Linked DNA regions of Homo sapiens: region 1 is linked to region 2. The links come from fine-mapping of genetic effects on gene expression. A gene starts in region 2. The other region holds a variant in brackets. All regions are shown on one strand. Distances are from middle to middle. Region 1 overlaps RNF144B (ring finger protein 144B). Region 2 holds the start of MIR548A1HG (MIR548A1 host gene).

What was found. PIP is the estimated chance that this variant, and not a neighbour inherited with it, causes the effect.
Region 1: its variant is fine-mapped to the expression of MIR548A1HG in thyroid (GTEx, PIP above 0.99).

Annotation. Positions count from the first base shown.
Region 1 is chr6:18,465,229-18,476,902 of GRCh38, forward strand. RNF144B (ring finger protein 144B) reads left to right here. Exons shown (of 8, transcript NM_182757.4): 8 at 1-3,642. Among named protein-coding and RNA genes, the nearest start is that of MIR548A1HG, 52 kb to the right of the region's middle. The variant T/G (reference allele first, on the strand shown) is at 6,406.
Region 2 is chr6:18,518,056-18,529,729 of GRCh38, forward strand. MIR548A1HG (MIR548A1 host gene) reads left to right here and starts at 4,692. Exons shown (of 8, transcript NR_149116.1): 1 at 4,692-4,780. RefSeq lists an enhancer at 9,537-10,172.

The sequences.
Region 1 (11,674 bases), 53 kb before region 2:
AAGTCCTGGGTGTGAGTGTTCCTGTGTAACAAGAACTGGGCTCAACGGTCCAGCTGTTTCTATGGAGCTTTGGGGTTCCTTGAGATGAATGAACATATCATTTTATCATCCAAAGGATCTCACTGGACTGTTCAACTTCCAGCCAAATTCAAGGAGCTTGCGGGAACATTTGATATAACAAATGTGTTGTCATTGTTGGCAACATACAAGATAACCAAGAAGCTGGAGTCTGTTCTGTGTTGATTTGACTGCCATGAGAAACACAGGGGAAACCTGATGAGGAGAAGGATAAGACTGCGTAAGGAGAAATCCTCATAGGAGCTATAAAGCAGGCTGCTGATCTCAGCAGTTGATATGGTGGTTGTGCCTCTGCTGGCTACTGGGTGTGCTGTCCCCATGTTCCCGCTGTGATTTGGCAGAAACACAATAGGCTTCTCCTTGTGTGATCTCAGCTTCAAGCAGGTGAAACTGCTGTGCAGAGGGAGTTGCCCCTTCCCAGTAAAAGAGTTGCAGCCTGTTAAACAATGTGGTCTAATTTAGTGTCTCTCCCTTGGCAAATGTAAGTTTTCTAAGTTGGCCAACTTGTCTCTTACAGCCAGTGGCTGTGGTCTACAGAATTGTTTCATATAAAATACGGGTAGAGTGGTAGAGTTTCAAAACTTTCGTCATAGATATCTGGGACCTTTCTCAGGATCTGTGTTCACACAGCCAATAGATTTGGAATCAGGCCTAAGAGTACACATGGAGGGTAAATATTAAAGTGCGTATTATGTACATCTAGAATCCATGTGACTTGCAGCCTACCTGTAATTTCTATCCATTGAGCATGCATGGATATACCCAATAGTACACACAAAATAAATGTTTACTTAAGAGCCATTCTATCCTTTTGTGACTGAAATGGTTTATTGTAAATCTGCCTAAAGATTTTTTGCATATTATATATGTGAATTTTGGTTGTAAGTTCATAACTTACCCAAGGGTATAGACTCATAACTCTTTTAAAACAGTGCTTAGTACAATATCCTGCCATCTCTGTAAAAACGCTAATTGATAACCGAGTCATTTACATGTTTTCGAACACAGAATAGCTCTTTTCTCAGCATCATTATTGCTCTTTCAGCATCTGTTAGGACAGTCTGAATACTTTCTGTTTCAAGGCACTGATAAAACCGCAACAAAAACATGTAAGAAATAAAATAGAAATGCTTTATATAATTTAGTTTAAATTTATGTATCACCTCATTGTGACTTATTTTTTCCATTATACCATTAGTCAGATTTGAATAACGAGGTTTTGAAAGGATAAAACCTTTTCTCCAATGACAGGATTATATAATTGCTATTGGCAATGTAGCCTGGTGCTTCATGAGACCTATGCTAAATGTTACTGGAGAGTTCTTGAAGCCAGGGATACCATATCAGGAACTATTCAGGATCTATGATATTTTCTGAGGTAACTGGGTAATAGAATATCAAATTGCTGCTATCTCGGACCTATTGTTAAAGGATGATGCTTTGCCTATGTAATAGGATATATCCTAAGTGGGGATGTGTATATTTCAGGAACTTTAATTCACAAGTATATATTGATATCTGATGTGTGTATAGTACATCTGTTGGTTATGTACATTTTAATTTACATGTTGTGTAGAACATAGATGAGAACTCTGGGAAAACTTGGGAATGGCAACCAACCAAAATCATTTTTAATCATTTATTAGAAATTTCTCAATATTGTGTCTTTTTCTTTTGAAACTCTAAACACTTCAGAAAAAAACACTATCAGTGTAGTTCATGTTAGTATAATTATAGATTTACATATATTTGAATAGTTAATTTGCTTTGTTTTACACGTAGCCCACTGCCTCATTATAGGTAAAAGGCATTTATAACTGCTCAGGGGATTACGAGAACTCAACTGAAACTGAATTTTTGTAACAAGAATGTTAATAGTGGCAAAGTCCTCTGTCAGTAAACTCTTTAAGCTTGGTGCTGCAAAGAGTCTTTAAATGGGGGCTGATTTCAAGTAACCTAAAAGACTGTGTTATCAGAGGAAGAGGTCCCAAATTTGGAGTAAAGATGGGAGAAAATAAATATGTGCTATTTCCTTGGCGAGTTGAGGGAATTTGCCACCTTACAGAGTTTGTATCACTGAATTAGCTGCTTTTGTTTTTTTTTTTTTTTTTTTGCCAGGGCTATGGAGTGGGGGTTGTTTGTCAAACTGATTTTCAATAATTGGATTTAATTTTTTTTAACATTGAAAAGTGCCTGAAAAATGGTAAATTCTTAAATGTGTGTGAGATTGTCAGAATCAACAAAACTAGGTTGGTTAAACATATCTCTGGTACATCAAGGGGCATGATACAAACCAGTCTAAAGACTGTTTATAAAGGAGAGAGCTGGCGACTTATTTTTATTTTTATTTTTTGGACAGAGTCTCCCTTTGTCACCCAGGCCGGAGTGCAGTGGCATGATCATGGTTCACTTCAACCCCTACCTCCTGGGCTCAAGTGTTCCTCTCACCTTATCCTCCTGAGCAGCTGGGACTACAGGCACACACCACCACACCTGGCTAAGTTTTGTATTTTTTGTAGAGATGGGGTTTCTCTGTGTTGCCCAGTCTTGTCTCAAACTCCTGGGCTCAAGCGATCCACCCACCTTGGGCTCCCAAAGTGTTGGGATTACAGGTGTGTGTCACTGTGCCTGACAGCTGACAGTTTTAACTGACAACTTTGATAACAGAGGCTGCTATTTTTGTTTTAGATAATTGGCCAGTGACAGAGTTTACCCTTGCCTCCTTTCTTGGTCTGCCAGCTTTGTCCTTTCTGAGTGATTCTCTTTCTGTATTGAGAGGAAGTGTGGGTCTACATAGGGATGTTTGGATGCTATGGCAAGAATCTTTTTGTGTTTGGAGTGTAGTCCATTTGCAATAGAAATAAAAAAATCCGTCACCAAATTGTAACCTGGATGTTATAGCCCAGCATCTAGAAATCCTATGAAACGTATTAGCACAATATCTTGCCATTGTCCCATCTAGGAAATTTTTTCTTGTTGTGAGGTAGGGAAGTGAGGAGGAAAGCCATGCCGAAGCAAATGTTAGAATCTTAGGCATCCTATTTGTTCATGCCATGGGTATTTGCTTTGGACTTGGAGTCTGTACTTTGAAAGAGGCCTTTGAAAAACAAATAATTCTGTGTGAATTTTCTTGTAGCGTGCTTCATGAAAATATCTACTTATCCAGGTTTGCAAATGTACATGTTCATTTGAATGTAAATCACCATTTCTTGGAACCCCACGTTTTTTCTTAAAAATTATTCTGAATTAAATGTATATTTCTTTAGCCTTCCCTACACAGTACTAATAAAAGACTTTTCTTTCTGTTCATGAATGGATGCCTTTATGTGATATAGAGTCATGTGTGTATGTGTAGCTTTAAGGGCAATTTCAGAAATGCATTAGATGAATGACATTTTATAAAGCGATCACAATTGATATCTACAGGCTATTATGTCTCATGTTGATTCATGATCCAGGAAGTTTTATGTATTTAAAAAATTGCTATCGTGTTATATTTTTCCAATTTTTGGAGAAGAAAATAGCTGTTTAGGCTCTCTAGCCACAATAAATGTAAGCAGGAAATCAAGTGTGTTAACCTTTGTTGCGCTGCACAATTCTAGGCATGTTCAGTTTTATCCTTTGAGAACCAACCAAGTTACTGTTAAATCCTAGGTTCTGAATTTACAAAATGTACCAGAATTTGCAATACCATCTATGGAAATAACTCTTGGCTACTTTACTTCTTAAAAGAAATAGGGTCAGGGGGTCAGGTGTGGTAGCTCACGCCTATAATCCCAGCACTTTGGGAGGCCAAGGTGGGCGGATCACCTGAAGTCGGGAGTTCGAGACCAGCCTGGCCAACATGGTGAAACCCCGTCTCTACTAAAAACACAAAAAATTAGAACCCTGTCTCTACTAAAAATACAAAAAAAAAAAATTAGCTGGACATGATGGCACATGCCTGTAGTCCCAGCTACTTGGGACGCTGAGGCAGGAGAATTGCTTGAACCTGGAGGTGGAGGTTGCGGTGAGCCAAGATTGTGCCATTGCACTCCAGCCTGGGCAGCAAGAGCGAAACTCGGTCTCAAAAAAAAAAAAAAGGGGGTGGGGGGGTGGCAAGTGTAATGCCTTTGTTACACACTTTCTTCTTTGTAGGTGTGATAGTCCACACTGCCAGTGCATAGGAACTCATCATTATCCAGAGCAATAACCAATAATACAGATCTTTGATCATTCTAATAAAAAATGCTGCCAAGTGTCAAAGCCATTTGTTCTGTACAATAAAGGTTGGACTAAACGCTAAGGTCAGTTCTAACCTTCCAAAAGTCTGCTAGAGGCATGTGTTTCCTTGTTATGATTTTTTAAGAAAGGATTTAAGAGTGTTAAGGTCATTTCCATTTGAATTAGTATTCGAGGCAGGTCTTAAGTTGGGTGCCAAAGATTACTTAACAACTAGAGCTTGTGTTTCCATAAAACCGAAAGCTCACTCTCCTGTACTGGTGTTGAAACCTTTTTATTGAAGGCTGGATGCTTCTAAAATGGTACCTGCATACAAAGGTTTACAACTGATGTACAATTCAAATTTCATTTTCTAATCATTCAGTTTTGAGGAAATCAATAAGATCATTTAAAAATACTTTTGGGTTATGGTTTCTTAATTTTCTTAATCATCTCCTAGAATGTCAACATTATTTCATTTTGAAAGTGTGCTTATTGTTTGCTAACCTTGAATTTGCATTCCCAAAGAAATATTGAATGAACCATTTTATATAGCAGTGATTTTAATCAGTGCCCTAACCAGCAAACTCATTGCAATTTAAGTTATGAATCTGATGATTTGGAGGAGAATAATAATTAGGTTTTTCTGTAATTCAATTATTTTCATTTGTTAGATAATAAATCTAGTTTTCTTTAGACCCTAAAGATAATGCCCAACACTATGAGAAAAAGGAAACGAATCTGCTTAAATGCGTTAATAGCAATTATAATGTTTTATTTGTATATTTTTACGTAAACTAAAGAACTTTTGAGAACAATCCTTTGAGATAAATGGAGCAGATTAGATCCATTTTATGAAGAAAGCAATGTTTTGTATTCATGTCTTGCTTAGGTTCATACTGATGAGTGACAGCCAGGAAAAGAATGCACTACGACTTGAAAGTTCTATAATGCTCTTTCATTAGTAATTTCGAGTCTTTCACTCCCAAATCTGTGAGTCCTAAGAGAACATAGTACCCTCTCATTTATCTGCATCAGTGGAGATGTATGTAAGAACATATTTCAAATCATCACTTAGAGGCTGTGTTTTGGTGGGTACCCCTGAGATCCCCTCACCTCACTCCTTGAAGTTTGGCTAGAGAAGGACAGTTGATGGAAGGTAACTAGAAAAATAACAAGGCGGTCTGCATCTGACTTGCTAGTATTGGAAGCAGAATTATAGCTGAATCTATATACTTACCCCAAATGCCCAAGTGCTTGCCTCTCCCCTACAAAGTACATTCTCACAAGTTCCTTTTGATATTTACAATCAAGATTCAAAGGGACTGTTGACTCAGATCTAACTCCTTTCTTATTAACACTGCCAACTTGTACTCAAATGTGTATTTGTAGCCTACCATTAAATCAATTGGCAGTTTCCAAAGCTAGAAAGGGGACTCCAAGTAATGAACTTAATTTCTCATACATAAAGAAGTCCTTTCAATTCCATTTTCTGCCTTTATGATTTTCGATTTTTATCAGTGCTATATTTGCCCTCAGTTTTGCTTTTTTTTAGCTGTTAAATCAGGAATTCGGGCTTTCGATGAGAAGGAAATTAAGTTGAGTGTTGGTCGTTTTATCTTGTAGTTCCTTAAGGACCTGACATGATTCAAGAAGATATATTTCCTTTTGTGGGGAGTGGAGGGGTGGTTAACATCAATAGTACTGAACACATTCAGATAAAATGAACATGAAGGTATTTTTGAGGTAAGTTATGGGACTTCTGATTATTGATCAGCCTCGACTTATGTTTTGAAGACAAGCCAATTCATTTTAAAACAAGTTCAGAAATCCACATACCACCCTGTGTGGTGTGTCCTGAATTCCAGCCTGGCCCTGGGACTTTGGCACCACAAGGGCATGTGAACAGGGTGCTGGGAGAGGGCTGGCAAACGTGGTGCCACCCTGGCCACAGAACAAGTGTGCAGCGTCCTCTGTCCTCCCGGCCCTCTGCCAATCCAGGTGGTGTGGGGTTGGAGGCAGACGCCCAGCTGGCAATAAGATGGCTTCAGTTCTAGGCCTGGCTGTGCTCTTGACTGGTGGTATGGTCTGGGGCCAGCCCTTTATTGTATAGCGTCATTTCATCCC[T/G]ATCTCAGGTCAGGCTTAGGTGGATCGAGTAAAATCCCGAATGTCAAAGTGCTTCTAAGTGTTGGTTGTTAGGGAGGTGTGAGGAGAGCGAGCCACTGAGTTAGGTGTGCTTGCAGCTGTTAAGTGTAGTTGATCAGTTTTTTGTTTGTTTGTTTTGAGACAGTCTCGCTCTGTTGCCCAGGCGGGAGTGCAGTGGTGCTATCTCTGCTCACTGCAAACTCCGCCTCCTGGGTTCAAGCAATTCTCCTGCATCGTCATCCTGAGTAGCTGGGACTACAGGCGTGTGCCACCACGCCCAGCTAATTTTTGTATTTTTAGTAGAGACAGAGTTTCACCATGTTGGCCAGGCTGGTCTTGAACTGCTGGCCCCAAGTGATTCATCTGCCTCGGCCTCCCAAAATGCTGAAATATTACAGGCATGAGCCACTGCGCCTGGCCGAGTCAATCAGTTTTTAGCCAGGCATTGTTCTGAGAGGAGAAGAGGGGGCAAACTTGGGGCAGGAGGAGGGTAGTCCTGAAATACATTTCAAGCTTGTCTGTGTTGAGAGAAGTATGACCCCCTCCGTAAATGTATTTTCTTTTTAGGTTTAAAAAAAAAATCCTATGTCATTGTTTAACAAATATTTCACAAAATAGTTAAATCTAAGTATATGCTTCATTAAAATGAGGGGAATATGTGGAAAGAAATGCAGAATTTATATCAACACATTGATTTTGGGGGGAAGGTTTATGGTAAGAACTTAGTGTTTAAATAATGCCTTATAGTATGCAGTTTCCTTTTGCTCTTCATACTACTCTAGAAAGTAGATATTACTCTTCACACCCCCCCACCCCCAATGTACAGATGGGAGATGAGACTCAGGGGTTAGAAGACATGGTGCAGGTCGTACAGCAGGTGAGTGGCAAAGCTAGAACTTGAACCCACATCTTGCATGAACTAACTCGGGACCTGTTTGCATTATTTTAATTTTTAAAAGCATCTAAAAACAACACATTTATTACTTCAGTTTCTGTAGATCAGAGGTCTGACGTGATGTTGCTGGGTTCTCTGCTCGAAGTTTCACTGGGCTAAAAATCAAGGTGTTGGCCAGGTGTGGGGGCTCATGCCTGTAATCCCAGCACTTTGGGAGGCCGAGGTTAGCGGATCACGAGGTCAAGAGATTGAGACCATACTGGCCAACATGGTGAAACCCTGTCTCTACTAAAAATACAAAAATTAGCCGGGCGTGGTGGTGGGCACCTGCAGTCCAACTACTCAAGAGGCTGAGGCAGGAGAATCGCTTGAACCCAGGAGGTGGAGGTTGCAGTGAGCTGAGATTGTGCCACTGCACTCCAGCCTGGCCACAAAGTGAGACTCTGTCTCAAAAAAAAAAAAAAAAAATCAAAGTGTTGGATGGGGCTGTGTTCTCCTCTGGAGGGAGGCTCAGAGTCCTATTCCAGGCTCTCTGGGTGTTGTCAGAATTCAGTTCCTTCTCACACCTTCCACGTGGCCCCCTCCATCTTCAAGCTTGCAACAGCTCATTGAGTCTTTCTCATACTTCAGACCTCTTTGGCTTCCTCTTCTGACACATCTCTGGCTTCCATTTTACATTTTAATGGCTACGAGAGTATGTATATTTGTCATTTTCAAAAGGAAATTTAGCTTTTTAAAATCTGTTCTGTTTCCCAGCCCCATGAAGGCAAAGAGTTTTCACAGGTAATAGAATCTGCTTGAAGACATCACAAACTTGGGGAAGAGTTAGCAAAATCTAACTTCTACCTGGGAACTGTTGACTTACCGTTGGAATTGGGTCTAGTATAGCCAAGGAGATCAGCAATTCTGCTTCTGGCTAGTGTCCTTGGGAGGTCCATTTGGTCTATATGTGGGACAGATTTTCTTAAATGGACTCAGAAGAAAACCTGATCTGAGCTTTCTAAACAAACCTTCAGAAGATTCAGGATTGGATTGAATCTTGTTTTGGATTCAGGAAGGACAACTCTTTTAAGAGCTGGCTTAAAGTACAGGATGGTGTTTCCATTCAAGTCAGACCAGTAAAGCAGATGGATCTGAGTTAACCAGTCACTGCCTGTTGTTGAGGGACGTGCAACAAAAGTCAAGGTCATTGCCTCTTCCCCTCTCCCACCCCCAGTGCAGCAATACAGACCCGGCCAGATGCTGTAGATGTTTTAAACTAGCATAGCCATGCTTTTGACTAGAAATGAAAGACTGGAGGGAAGTTTGATAGCTCTCCTAGTCTCTTGTGGACAAGTTACAATTTCTCTTGGCTTCGGTTGCCTCATCTAGAAAATTAGGAAGTAACTGTTTTCTAGGTTCAGTACAAACCTAACATTTTGACTAAGATGGAAAAAACCTCCAGCCCCCTCTGTGAGCTCTATATGCATGAAACTAGTTAGCTCAAGGGAAATTCTCCTTCTTAGACAAAGTAATCCTCAGAAGCAGCTTCCAGATGCTGTTATGGATAATGCCAGAAGCATATGAAATATATTGCCAATTTACTTAAAATGAGCAAATTCAAAGAGTAGTGGTTGAACCTCATGGTTTATCTACAGCTCTTGGTGGCTAAAAAGACCTATAATCAAAGTTGCTTGGGGAATTTCCAGGGACATGTTTCTTCTAGTACCTATACAAAAAATATCAGGACCTCACTCTCCTTATTTGAAGCACACCATGGATTATTATGAGTGTGTTAGTCTAAGGGGCTTGTTATTAATTTTTTTCAGTATACATTGTATTTTCTGCAAATTGAGTTAAATTTAAGGTATATATATTGATAGCATATAGGATAGTATATATGCATGTATGTTTGTGTGAATGAGAAGATAAATAGGCACATCGACTTTGTTAACAAAATTTTTATTCAGTCTTTAATGAATTCGATTTTCAAAAGTAGAACACAAAACTACTTGTGAACTTTGAAAAACGGTAAATAAAGAAATAAGTTAATTAAAAAAACAAGTTAATTAAATATTCAAAGAATGCTTTAAAAGTTTTAAGAGTGGTCATACTAAAACTCAGTCCTCATATTTACATCTGATATCACAAGTGTGTCATAGCCAAGGAAGTAAAATAAGAACTTGTGGTGGGGCATGGTGGCTCACGCCTGTAATCCCAGCACTTTGGGAGGCCGAGGTGGGCGGATCACTAGGTCAGGAGATCGAGACCATCCTAGCTAACACGGTGAAACCCCATCGCTACTAAAAATACAAAAAAGTTAGCAGAGCGTGGTGGTGGGCGCCTGTAGTCCCAGCTACCTGGGAGGCTGAGGTGGGAGAATGGCATGAACCCGGGAGGCGGAGCTTGCAGTGAGCCGAGATCGCACCACCGCACTCCAGCCTGGGTGTCAGAGCGGGACTTCGTCTCAGAAAAAAAAAAAAAAAAAAAAAAAAAAAACTTGAAAAAAATCTTCAGGTTTAATTTCTTTTACCTACCTTAAGGAAAACAAAAATGTGTGTTGATTGCACCTTAAAATGAAAATGATAAAAATAAGTGGTTGTATTCTTCTCCCACTCCCCATTCATAATCTGCAGGGTATTTCTCAAACAATAAATATCCTCAACTGGTGTAAGAATGTTAATTTACTACTGGAGGGAACAGAAGATGACCTGGAAGCATTGTCCCAAGCTAACTGCTGAGGGCTAGACACTTATTTGAGGTCTCTGGTTTTATTTTTTAATTTTATTGTTCATTTAAACATTCATTAAAAATTATAACCTCCATACTATTTTGATTTTAATTAAGTAATTTTGTTTGTAGAGACAGGGTCTTGCTTTGTTGCCCAGGCTGGAGTACAGGGGCACGATCAGGACTCACTGTAGCCTCAAACTCCTGGGCTCAAGCAGCTTCCCACCTCGGCCTCCCAAAGTGCTGGGATTACAGGTGTGAACCACCACAACTGGCCTGATTTTATTTATTTTTATTTTTGAGACAAGGTCTTGCTCTGTCGGCCAGTCTGGAGTGCAGTGGCGTGATGATCTCGGCTCACTGCAGCCTTGACCTCCTGGGTTCAAGTGATCCTCCCACCTCAGCCTCTTGAGTAGCTGGGACTACGGTGCATGCCACCACACCCCGCTAATTTTTTAATTTTTTTGTAAAGACAGAGTTTCACCATGTTGCCCAGATTGGTCTTAAACTCCCGAGCTCAGGCAATCCTCCTGCCTCAGCCTCCCAAAATCCTGGAATTACAGGTGTGAGCCACCAGACCTGGCCTGATTTCATTTTAAAGATTACATTTTAAATTATTGAAGTAAGATTAACTTCTTCTTTTTTCTTTTTTTTTTTTTTTGAAGACAGAGTCTTGCTCTGTCACCCAGGCTGGAGTGCAGTGGCACGATCTCGGCTCACTGCAACCTCCACCTCCTGAGTTCAAGTGATTCTCCTGTCTTAGCCACCCGAGTAGCTGGGACTACAGGCGCACACCACCACACCTGGCTAATTTTTGTATTTTTTAGTGGAGATAGGATTTCACCATATTGGTCAGGCTGGTCTCGAGCTCCTGACCTTAGGTAATCCACCCGCCTCGGCCCCCCAAAGTGCTGGGATTACAGGTGTGAACCACTGTCCCTGGCCAAAATTAACTTCTTAAAGATGCTTTATCTTTGTCTTGTATCCTCCAGTACCCCACAATACCCTGGGGTGTTACATACACCTGTTTGAGAAGCATGAGCAAGTCTACTAGGTTATTTTAATCACCAAACATATATTGAATGCCTTCTTTGTACAAACAAATGTGTCTCAATTAGTTGTTTCAAGTGGCTTAGTTAGGTTTAGGAGAAAGAATACGTTGGTCTACAGAAAAAGGAATGACTGCATTGGGTCATGCCTGGTACATGCCAGGTGATTGGTGTAGACAGGTGCCATGAACCTGTGGAGAAGGAGTGAGATTGTTGGAACTTTTCAATTCACATTTCATGGAGATGATGCTGATCAGGGTGTTGAGAGACAGGATTGTGATCAGCAAGGGCATTACAGAGAGGAGGCATGATGACAACAGTGTGACATGGGGAGTGAGAAATAACTGAATGAAACAGAAATAAAGCACCTGTGGGGTGCAGAAACAGAGAACCTTGAGTGCCAGGCTCCCGTGTTGACAGGTTCTTTTTGGGGTGAGGAGCCATTTCAGGGTTCTGTGCTTGAAGAGTGGGGTGAGGTGCAGTGACTCATGCCCATAAACCCAGCACTTTGGGGGGCTGACATGGGAGGATCACTTGAGCCCAGGAGTTCGAGACCAGCCTGGGCCACATGGCAAAACCTTGTCTCTACCAAAAGTTA
Region 2 (11,674 bases):
AAGATTTTCTCCCAGTCTAGGGTTTCTCATTTCCTTTTTAAAATAGTGTCTTTGGATAAAGTCTAATTTATGGTTTCTTTTTATTCCTGTATCCAAATCTTTGCCAAACTAAGGTCACTATGATTTTTTTTCCTATTGTGCTCTAGAAGTTTTATAATTTTAACTCTTGTATTTAGGCTTATGTTTTATTTTGAGTTAAATTTTGTATATACTAAGCGGTAAGAATCAAGGTTCATTTTTGTGCATATAGATACCAAGTTGTTCCAGAACCATTTATTGAAAAGATTATTCTTTCTCTTTTAAATTGTCCTGGCACCTTTGTCAACAATCCTAAATATGTGGGTCTATGTTCTATTCTAATTCATTTATTGATCTATTTTTATGCGAATACCACACTGTCTTGGTTAATGAAACTTTGTAAAAGCTTTGAAGTTAGGCAGTACGAACCCTCTGGCTCTTTTTTCAAAGTTGTTTTTCCAAAGAATTTTCTACAGAGTCAGTCGTGTTATCTGCAAATAAAGCCAGTTTTATTTCTTCTTTTCAAATCTGGATGCTTTTCAATTTTATTTATTTATTTCCTATTGCATAGAATAAAATCTCCAGCACTGGATACACATGTTCTCTGTCATAAAGAGAGGTTATAATTCTCAACTAGAGGAAAGATTTATGAAATGTTCCTTGGTGTATAGCATTTTAGATTTCAGTTATAGAATGAGATTGTGTGCTCAGGATTACCTGTCTGCAATGCCTGATATTTTCCTCTTGGGCAGGCATCCAACTAGTATCTGAGAGGGAAATCCAGTAGCCAGAAGGAAGGAATCTGCTTTACATTAATTCTCAGGACAATATTATTTGACTATATACAGATAGGATAATGATGACATGATAATTATAGGCAGGAAAGCTATGAAAAATAAAGCTTGAAGTAGGATCTGAACACCTCGTTTTTGAAGGGTATCTCCAAATATTTTATTGGAATACCAGATATATGAATTTCTCTTAAGTTCATAGGCTTCAAACGTTCTAACAAAGCACAGTCCTGAAAAAATAACTTGAGGGGCTTCACCGAAGAAGATATACAAATGGCAAATAAGCACATGAAAAAAATGTTCAACCACACCAAACATTAGGGTAATGCAAAGTAAAATCACAATGAGACATTACTACATACCCACTAGAATGGCTAAAATTAAAAAGACTGACCACATCAAGTGTTTTTAAGGATGTGGAGCAACCAGAAATATCATACACTACTGGTATGTAAAATTGTTCAACCTCTTTGAGAAGTAGTACACATATGCACAGAGTCATATTAAAATGTTACCTATGCAACTGTCCTATACATTAAAGTTATTAAAAGATCTGAACACTTAGGAAAATAGGACTGAATAAGCAATTAAGTATTTTTTTTCTTTTCCTGCAGGTGAAATTTCTCAGGATTAAAAAATTCTCTAAAAACATCCTAAAGGAAATTTTTTTTCAACAATTTTTCTTCTATGAATTCACTTTTCAGTTCACATTTCTGGAGAAAAAAACTCAGTGAAAAATTGATGAAAAATGTTCATCTAAATGGCAAAATATTCTAAGCTAAGCAAAAAGCATTTTTTAGATGCCAGTGATTGAGTTACCAAGGGTGGGTATTGGTTGCGTAGGATGGAGTGAGCCCAGGAGGTCCCGGCTAGGAGAGTATCACTACTGACCCCAACATATGCTGGGATTGTTGGGTTTGCCTAAGAGCAGCGGGGTTTCAGTTTATAGTACCTATCTCTCCCCACCCCAATCCTTTTGTGATCAATAGAATATATTAAAATGACAGCTTGCAAACTATGAAAAAGCTTGCAAACCTCACAGAAGAGAAGTCTTTAAAAACTATTAAAAATTTTAAAGACACAGGGTCTTTCCATGTTGCTTAGGCTGGTCTCAAATTCCTGGGCTTAAGTGATCGTCCTGCTGTGGCCTCTGTGTAGCTGCTGTGCCATTGTGCATGGTGAAGATAAGTTTTTTAAAATTATTATTTTTGTTTTATTATACAAGTAGTATGAGTTCTTTGGGAAATCAATTTAAAAGCATATTTCGCTATCCAAGTAAACATAAAAATATGCACTTTATTTTTATTTTTATTTTTTTTTTGAGATAGAGTCTCACTCTGTTGCTCAGGCTGGAGTACAGTGACGAGATCTCAGCTCACTAGCAAACTCTGCTTCCTGGGTTTAAGCGATTCTCGTGCCTCAGCCTCCGGAGTAGCTGGGATTACAGGCATGTGCCACCACATCTGGCTAATTTTTGTAGTTTTAACAGAGACAGGGTTTCACCATGTTGGCCAGGCTGGTCACGAACTCCTGACTTCAGGTGATCCAACTGCCTCAGCTTCCTAAAGTGCTGGGATTACAGGCAGGAGCCATTGCGCCTGGACTACATATTATTTTTTTTAACGTATAGATATCCATATATTTTCTAAAATATGGGAATCAATATATACGTATAGATTTATCCTTAAACTTGTTTTATAACATACAATTTTCCATATACTTAAATATTCAAAATCACAAATATTAATATTTTATAACATTATTTCATATGTATATAATTATTTAATCAATTCCCTGTATTTAACAATTAGGTTGTTTCCAATTTACAGCATTACCAGGATTGCGGAGATTGATATTTTTGTGTTTATTTAGATTATTTTTCCATAATAAATTCTCAGAAATGAAAATATTGCTGAAGGATCAAAACACTTTTGAGATTTTTGCACATTTTGACAAATTTTGACCTAACAGATTCCTAGTAGCAGTGAGTGAGAGTACTCATTTCATCATATACCTGACAGCAGTGAGTATTATTTTAAAAGACATACATGCCAAGTTGAGGGAATAAAGTGTTATCTCTGCTTCATCTTTCATTTCTTTGATTACCAGTCATGTGGGACTTTTAAAACATAACTGTGTTAATGGTCATTTCTATTTACTCTTTTGTAAATGATCATTCTTTTATTTGATCAATACTTATTGATTGCCCACTATGTGTGAAGCACTGCAGAAGGTGTAACATTCAGCAGCAAATGAGAGAGAGACAGCCCCTGCCCTAATGGAACATAAAGTTTTTTTTTTCTTTTGAGGACAGAGTCTCAGTCTGTTGCCCAGACTGGAGTGCAGTGGCACAATCTCGGCTCACTGCAACCTCTGCTGCCTGGGTTCAAGTGATTCTCGTGCCTCAGCCTCTGGAGTAGCTGGGGTTTCAGGCGTGTGCCACCACATCCGGCTAATTTTTGTATTTTTAGTAGAGACGGGGTTTCAGCAGGAATCACTGCTGACCTCAGGTGATTCGCCTGCCTTGGCCTCCCAAGTTGCTGGGATTACAGACGTGAGCCACTGCGCCAGGCCTTTTATGGTGGTTTTTGATGTGAGTAAGTGATATACAAAAGTGTAGGAAAATTGGTCTCCCTCTCTTTCTGGTTTATTTTTTCCTTTATCATTGATTAGAAAGATATTTGAAATTCTAGATTATAAATTCACATATTTATTATTTCTTCTGGGTCTCCTGAGTGTAGTTTTTACACTTAATAATTAAATCCATCCAAAATGTACATTATTGTATCTTGTAAGGCAGTGATTTATCTTCTCACTGAAACAGTTAACTCTCTATTTTAACACTATTTATGAAATAATCCTTCCTCCTCTTGAATGATTAGTCATCTCACCTTTATCATATACTAAGTTCTTTTTGAGTAGATATATATTAGGATCCATTTCTGGGCTATTTGTTTCTACCATCAATTTTTATGTGTGTACTACGTTATTGTAGTGTCATAATATGTTTTATTATCTGGTAATGTAAGTTCACTTAATTTATGTGAGAATCATTAATTAAACTGGTTTTAGTAGCTGCTGGAGTTCAGCCTGACTGATGAGATTGCATGGTTTTTATGATGTCGTATAAAGATATATAAAAGCAAAACCTTTTCTTTTTTTCATATGGACTTTTTTCCTTTGACTATAATGTAGCACATGTTGTAAAACTTTGGATCTTCCAGAAAAACACAAAGGAGAAGATAAACATCACCCAATTCTGTCACCAGAGAGAGCCTTTTAAAATATTTTGAATCTTATACCTCTGGCCTTTTAGAGATGCACATGATACATATTATTTTATATTATCCTGCAGGGATTGTGCCTTTTATTTCTAACGATATCTCAGTGGAACACTTTCTATGTCATTAAATACTCTTAGTCTTTTAAAACATTAATTTAATGATTTCATATGACATGTAGAATGTATCATACTATATTTAACCATCCTTAGGTTTATTTGCAGTCTCTATTTTAAATGGTGCCACGATGAACATTCTTAGGGAGTAGGTTAGAGGTTTTTTTCTCTTTTTCACTCATTTTTCTTCTTTCTCCATCGTGTTTGGAAAGAGGTATTTTGGTAAACTGGAGAACAGTGATAGCTTTGATATGCTAAACGCATCAGACTTATCCCAAGGAAACCTGTTGATATGGTTTGGCTGTGTCCCCACCCAAATCTCATTTTGAATTTTAATTCCAACAATTCCCACGTGTCGTGGGAGGAACCTGGTGGGAGGTAATTAAAACACGGGGGGTGGGTCTTTCCCGTGCTGTTCTCGTGCTAGTGGATAAGTCTCACGAGATCTGACGGTTTTAAACACGGGAGTTTCCCTACACAAACCGTTTCTTTGCCTGCCGCCATCCACGTAGAATGTGACTTGCTCCTCTTCGCCTTCTGCCATGATTCTGAGGCCTCCCAGCCACGTCGAACTGTAAGTCCATTAAACCTTTTTCCTGTATAAATTATCCAGAGTTGGGTATGTCTTTATCAGCAGCATGAAAATGGAGTAATACACCTGTTAAGAGTAGCAAGGAATGATGCCATGAGTAAAAGATGGAATCAGGCGGGGCGCAGTGGCTCAGCCTGTAATCCCAGCACTTTGGGAGGCCGAAGCGGGCGAATCACCTGAGGTCGGGAGTTCAAGACCAGCCTGACCAACATGGAGAAAGCCCGTCTCTACTAAAAATACGAAATTAGCCGGGCGTGCGGGCGGATGCCTGTAATCCCAGCTACTCAGGAGGCTGAGGCAGGAGAATTGCTTGCACCTGGGAGGCAGAGGTTGCAGTGAGCCTAGATTGTGCCATTGCATTCCAGCCTGAGCAACAAGAGTGAAACTCCGTCTAAAAAAAAAAAAAAAAAAAAAAAAGATGGAATCAGCTGCCGAGTGTGGTGGCTCACGCCTGTAATCTGTAATCCCAGCCCTTTGGGAGGCTGAGGTGGGTGGATCACAAGTTCAGGAGTTCAAGACCAGCCTGACCAATATGATGAAACCCCATCTCTACTAAAGATACAAATATTAGCCAGTAATCAGAAGTTAAAGCATTCATTCCTTAATCTATTCATCAAATGGCTAAGAAGTTTCTAAAATGCTCTCTTCTATGGAATATGAAGATAAATGAGATTTGACCCCTAACTTCAAAGAACCCGTGATCAAAATTTGTGTCTATGTGTGCGTGTGTGTGTGTGTGAATGAGGGAGATACACAACAGGTAATTATGATATAACACAATAACTGATATACAGAAACATGAACATTTTGCTTGATCCATAATTAGTCAAATCACTAATCTGAGTCTCTTGTTTTTACCCACTATTCCATGCTCCTAATAAAAATAACATTTGAAAATATCAACAGGGATATCTAAATAGATACACATTCATGTCCTATGTTTTGCAGTATGGTGTGCATCCTACATGTACAGGGTCGATTTTTCTACCTCCCTGAGATAAGCTCCCACATTAATCTGCTATGGTACTACTTTCCTCCCTTTATCAATGATTCAAAGAATAACAAGCCAGACATCCTTGGCAACTGAAATCATTTCAATGTATTGAAATCATAAGGTGTACTGGTTAGCTATGGACTGTGCTGTCTCTTAACCCATTCAGAAAGATGAGGGTAGCCGGGCGCGGTGGCTCAAGCCTGTAATCCCAGCACTTTGGGAGGCCGAGGCAGGCGGATCACGAGGTCAGGAGATCGAGACCATCCTGGCTAACACGGTGAAACCCCATTTCTACTAAAAATACAAAAAATTAGCCGGGCGCCTATAGTCCAAGCTACTCGGGAGGCTGAGGCAGGAGAATGGCGTGAACCGGCAGGCGGAGTTTGCAGACAGCGCCACTGCACTCCGGCCTGGGTGAAAAAGAGTGAGACTCCGTCTCCAAGCAAAAAAAAAAAAGATGAGGGTCACCAGCAAAATTTCTTTCATTTTACATTGTTGATATCTCTGTTTTAATCCGTAGTCCTTGTGGAAGGTGGCTGTTGCCTGTTATACCTTGTGAGGGGGCTTAGCTAATCAACCCTTATTAATTAGTCACTAATATGGGCTATGTACCAACAACTGTTTTCACTAAGTGGTGGCAGCACTAATTGATGGGGCATAATGAGCCCCTCCCGAATTACGAAGAAACATTGCTCCTTACCCTCTGTAGATGATCCCTTATAGATGAAGGGCTACCAAGGGAAGGCTGGAACAGGCATGGGATGGCAGGGTCTAATTTGTTTTTAACCTGCTTCTAAGAAGTTGCTTAATTAATATAGGATTAGCACATTTGAAGGCTTGAACAGGTGCAAACACACACTTGTAACCAGCTGTGTAATTGACCGCAGTGCAACAAGCCAGGTCTGAGCATGCAGACCTCACTAATCACCTGCTGACCTCCTATCTGTGGCTGTAAAAAGACCTGTTCTTTTTAGTGCAGGATTCCCTGAATCTATCTGGAAGGCCATGTATGTTGGGATGAGTTGAAATTTTTGGTTTTTGAGCAAACCTTTGTAAATGGGTTCATCTCCACATATGATACCCCAGAAACATTGCTGCTCCCCTTTTCTTGGTTTGTTTCTGTGGCCTTACTAACAATCTGGGGAATCTTGTGGATGTTGTACAGATGCTCCTTGCCTTCGAGGGGTTACATCTCAATAAACCCATTGCAAATTGAAACTATTATAAGGAAAAATGCATTTAATACACCTATAGGTTTATCAAATGTCATAGCTTAGCCTAGCTGACTTTCAACATACTCAGAACACTTATGTTAGCCTGCAGCTGGGCCAAATCATCTAACACAAAGCCCATTTTACAATAAAGTGTTGAACATCTCGTGTAATTTATTAAATAACATACTGAAAGTGAAAAACAGAATGGCTGTATGAGTACTCAAAGTATGGTATTTATTGAATGTGTATTGCTTTTGCACCATTAAAAATGAAAAATAATTGTAAGCCAAACCATTGTAGTCGAGGATCATTTGTATATGCTGTGGTAAATAGGTCTCCAGGCTTAGATCTCAAAGAATTCCAGAGTTCTAGGAGCCTTTAGGAATAGCTACCTAGTTCAGGGGTTGGGAAACTGCAATGTGGAGCCAATTCAGCCTGCGACTTGTGTTTATAAACCAAATTTTGTTGGAAAACAGCCATGCTTATCTATGTATTTATCCATGTTGCTTTTGTGTTACAATGGCAGAGGTGAGTAGTTGTGTCATTGAGCATATGATGTGCAAAGCTGAAATTATTGACTCTCTGGCTCTATACAGAAAAAGTTTCCTGACCCTTGAGATCAAGGGTCCAATCCATACTATATTTTTCAGCTTTTGTAGTAAAATTAAGTAAATTGCCCTTTATAAAAAGTTTTCAAGGAGCTCACTGTCTAGCAGAGGAGATGAAATACCCAAAATATGTGTAAATTCCTTCCAAATTGCTATTTCTCGTACGTGAAATCTGATTTTTAAAAACTTCACTTCTCATTATTTTTTATTTTCCTGCACAGTAGATTGGGATCTAGGCCTAAATCTAGTTCCTATTCAGTCTGTGTCACCATACCTGGCATCAGTGTATCATATATTTGTTAATTTGTTTATTATCTGTCTTCCTCTATCACAATGCAAGCTTCACAAAAGAAAAACTTTACATTTCTTATTCACATATCCCTAGGGCCTAAAATAGCAACCTGAAATATACTGGATACACAAAAAAACTGTGTTTTATGGAATCTAAGAAGCCATCGGTTGTAAGTTGTACCATTATTTTATATACCACTAAGAAAGAAAAAGCACTGGCAATTAGTCTGTAACACATGCTGAGTCTCCTTGATTGAAAAATACATCCTTGTTCCAGAATTGTTAAGATGTGAAACAATATGCACCTTAAAACCAATGAAGAAGGAGAATTGTCAAGTAGGTGGGAGAAGTGGCGATCTTATAATGATTTTCAAGGCTTAGCTAACATTTTGTCTCAAACCAAATCACAAATATTTATTGAGTAATTGCTTTGTGCAATATTCTGGCCTGGTGCTTCCTCCAAATCATCCCTTACCATAGCACCTTGGGGAACTCCTTGGCGTGCATCCCCCAAGCTGTAGAGACTCAGAGTCTGACGAGCCAATTTAGGACTTAATTATATACTCCTTTTATTGATCACCATTGTTTCTAATGACATAGTCTTTTCTCCACAACTAATTGGTAAGCCCCTTGAGCGCAGGAACTGGTTTTTTAAAGAATGATGTATTCTTCACAGTGCTTTCCCTTTCTGTTACCCAGGGAGCACATGGCAATATAAGGGCTCCTGGGATTGAATCTTAAGTACAGAGAAAACCTAAGAATGCTTTTAGATAGACAGATAAGAGACCAGTAGAGAAGAGCAGATTGAAGGTATGTGTGAGAAACGTTATGTAATGAAAAGATAATTGATGACACACACTTCCAGAGGGTGCTGGCGAGATTGATTCAAAAGCACACGGCTAGGGCACTGAGTAACGAGAAAGAAGTTGCAGATGAAGGATAAATGGACAGGAATAAGAAAGGGCTTCATCATTTAAGAATCTGAAAGAGACAAAAAGGTAAGGAAGGGACTAAATGGGAAGAAAGGGAGAAAACAAACCTTTTCTAATCTCATTAGCTTCACTCTTCCAATGTCCTCCCCACCTCTTCTCAAGGCTCCAGAGAATTTGTCTCCAAATGAAGCCCATTCTCTCTTCTTTCTTGTTAATACTGCCTCCTCTTCTCCCTCTCTTCTTACTACTTTCCCTCCTTAGGCCTACTTACATCTTCTTTCCTCATCAATTCAAAGCTTTCAATTGGTCTTTCTTAGTAAGACATCTCTTTCTAGATTTAGACATATTTTAGGAATTATGAGGACAGAAAAGCAATGCAGGGGAATATGGGGAAGAGGAAGGAACCTGTAATTTATGAATCACTTTTTTTTTTTCACATCTCCTAGGATCTTTACCTAGACCTTTCATTTAATCACAGACACCTTCCTTTAAAATTTTAGATACCCGTCCAAGGGTTCACTAGCAAAGCTGTCGCATGAATTCCAGTCCTCTGGTTTCAGAACCCATATACTGTGCTGACTTTTTTATTTTTATAACATCATGTTGCCTTTCTATAGAGGTAGTTCCTTCTTCTAATTATGAAAGGCTCGTGCTTATGTGTATTCTTATGTTTAATGCCTAGTTTTCATTACTTGAAGAGATTTTGGCAAGATTTAGTACTTTTTAAATATATTTAATTGCACAAGTAATACAGGTCCACAGGAAAAACGATTGAACAATCGTGATAGGCAAAATGAAGAAAATGAAAAATTATCCAGCATCCTTTGTGCCACGGCTTTCAAAATCAGTAAGATGAAAACCAATCCTCCTTCATTACAAAGTATTTTGAATAAGAATATAAGCTTAAGTGCTCATTCAGCAGCAGACAGACATGGGCTAATAGCTCAATGGCCTAACATTTCATCCCCGGACCAAAGCATTAGTTTTAGGCCTTCTTGTGTGGGATCTGTGGATTGTTTTATTTTCTTTCCTAATGAGCAATTGGACTAAAGGATCAGGTTTAATTATAACTAGAGTCCCTTTCTGTTTGTACATCACTGCAGACCTAATTGTAGGCTGGCATCCCTGCTGCGGCCTGAGTGGTCATTAGCTTGCTGATAATGAACTATGCTTGTCAACATGGCCTCATTAACCATTGTTTTTTTTTCAGCAACATGGTTGTAAGGGTTTGAACTTGTGATTGAGGATGTGCTGGACTCATCGTGCTGAGAGAAACTTGTCCAGTTACGTGGTTAGAACCAAAGAGTTTTGGCTCAGACAAGTGATGCTATCCAAGGATAACTGGATCTATGCTGCAGCCTCAGGAATGTGACATGTCAGGAAGAACCCTGACCTGAGAGTTAGAGAGTGAGATTCTTATCCCAGCTCTGTGCTGTGTAGCCCTGTGACTTTGGGCTAATTGTATCACTTTCTGTCCTCTAGTTTTCTCACCTGAAAATAAGAAGGTTCTACTCAATGATTGGTGAGATAACTTTTTGTCAATAAAAATAATTTTGCATGATGCTTGTGCAAACATTTTTTTCCTTTTTTTTAATCAGTGATTTTATCTTCTTAGGTTATACACTAGAGGGCAGTGGTACATTAATATTATAAACTATGAATGCACTTGGTACTGCATTCAGCTGAAAGTCATAGACATTTGAATTAGGAAGGGATCTTATCTATTTCTCATTCAAAATATAGGAAGCTGTTCTGTAGTGTCCCCAACAGATATTCTTCATGACCCTGTTGAACATTCCTAGTGTTGGGAACTTTGCTACTTCGCAAGGCAGCTTTTTTTTCTTGTTAGTTCTACTTATTAGAAAGTTATTTCTTCAATTAGTGAAAAACCTGCTTTCCTATAACTTTTATCGCTGGTCTTGCAACATGGCAGAAAACTGTATCGCCTTCTTGTAATGGCATTTCACATCTTTTATAGAGTCGTATTACTGAATAACTGTATTTACCATTTATTGGTAATTAGTAATTGTAAATTATAATTTATTGAGTATCAACTATGTATCAGCATTGCACCAGGCATCTTATTTACATTATTTTATTTAATTCTCACAATAAGCTCTGAGGGAATTTTCATCTTTATTTATCTGTATTTTACAAAGGCTCAGATCAAAACCACGTAACTGGTAAGCCATGTAGGTGGGATTTGAACCTAAGTCTGATGAAAACCCCCTGCCATTGCTCACAAAACAACACCTCCTTTTATAAAGGTGAAGACATAAGACCCAGAGAAGGGAAGCAACCTGCTTGAGATCACACAGTAAATAGGAATAGAGTAGGAACCGGATTCTAGATCTTTGGAGAACACATTCAATTTTTCTTTGCCGTACAGCACAGTGCACTCAAGACCGTTGTCATTTAAGTCCCAAATCCTCTTTTCTATATGTTAAATGTTCCTGTTTCCCCTCATTGTTATTCCAATGGTTTCTTTGCTGTCCTGTCATGTCCTCTGAGTGTGCTCTTAATTTGCTGCATCCTTTCTTTCTTTCTTTTTTTTTGAGACAGGGTCTCACTCTGTCACCCAAGATGGAGCGCAGTGGTGTGATCTTGGCTTACTGCAGCCTTGACCTCCCAGACTAAGGTGATTCTCCCACCTGAGCCTCTCGAGTAGCTGGGACCACAGGTGCACTCCACCATGCCTGACTAATTTTTTGTTGTTGTTGTTTGAGACAGAGTCTCGCTCTGTTACCAGGCTGGAGTGCAGTGCCACAATCTTGGCTCACTGCAATCTCTGCCTCCAGAGTTCAAGTGATTCTCCTGCCTCAGCCTCCCAAGTAGCT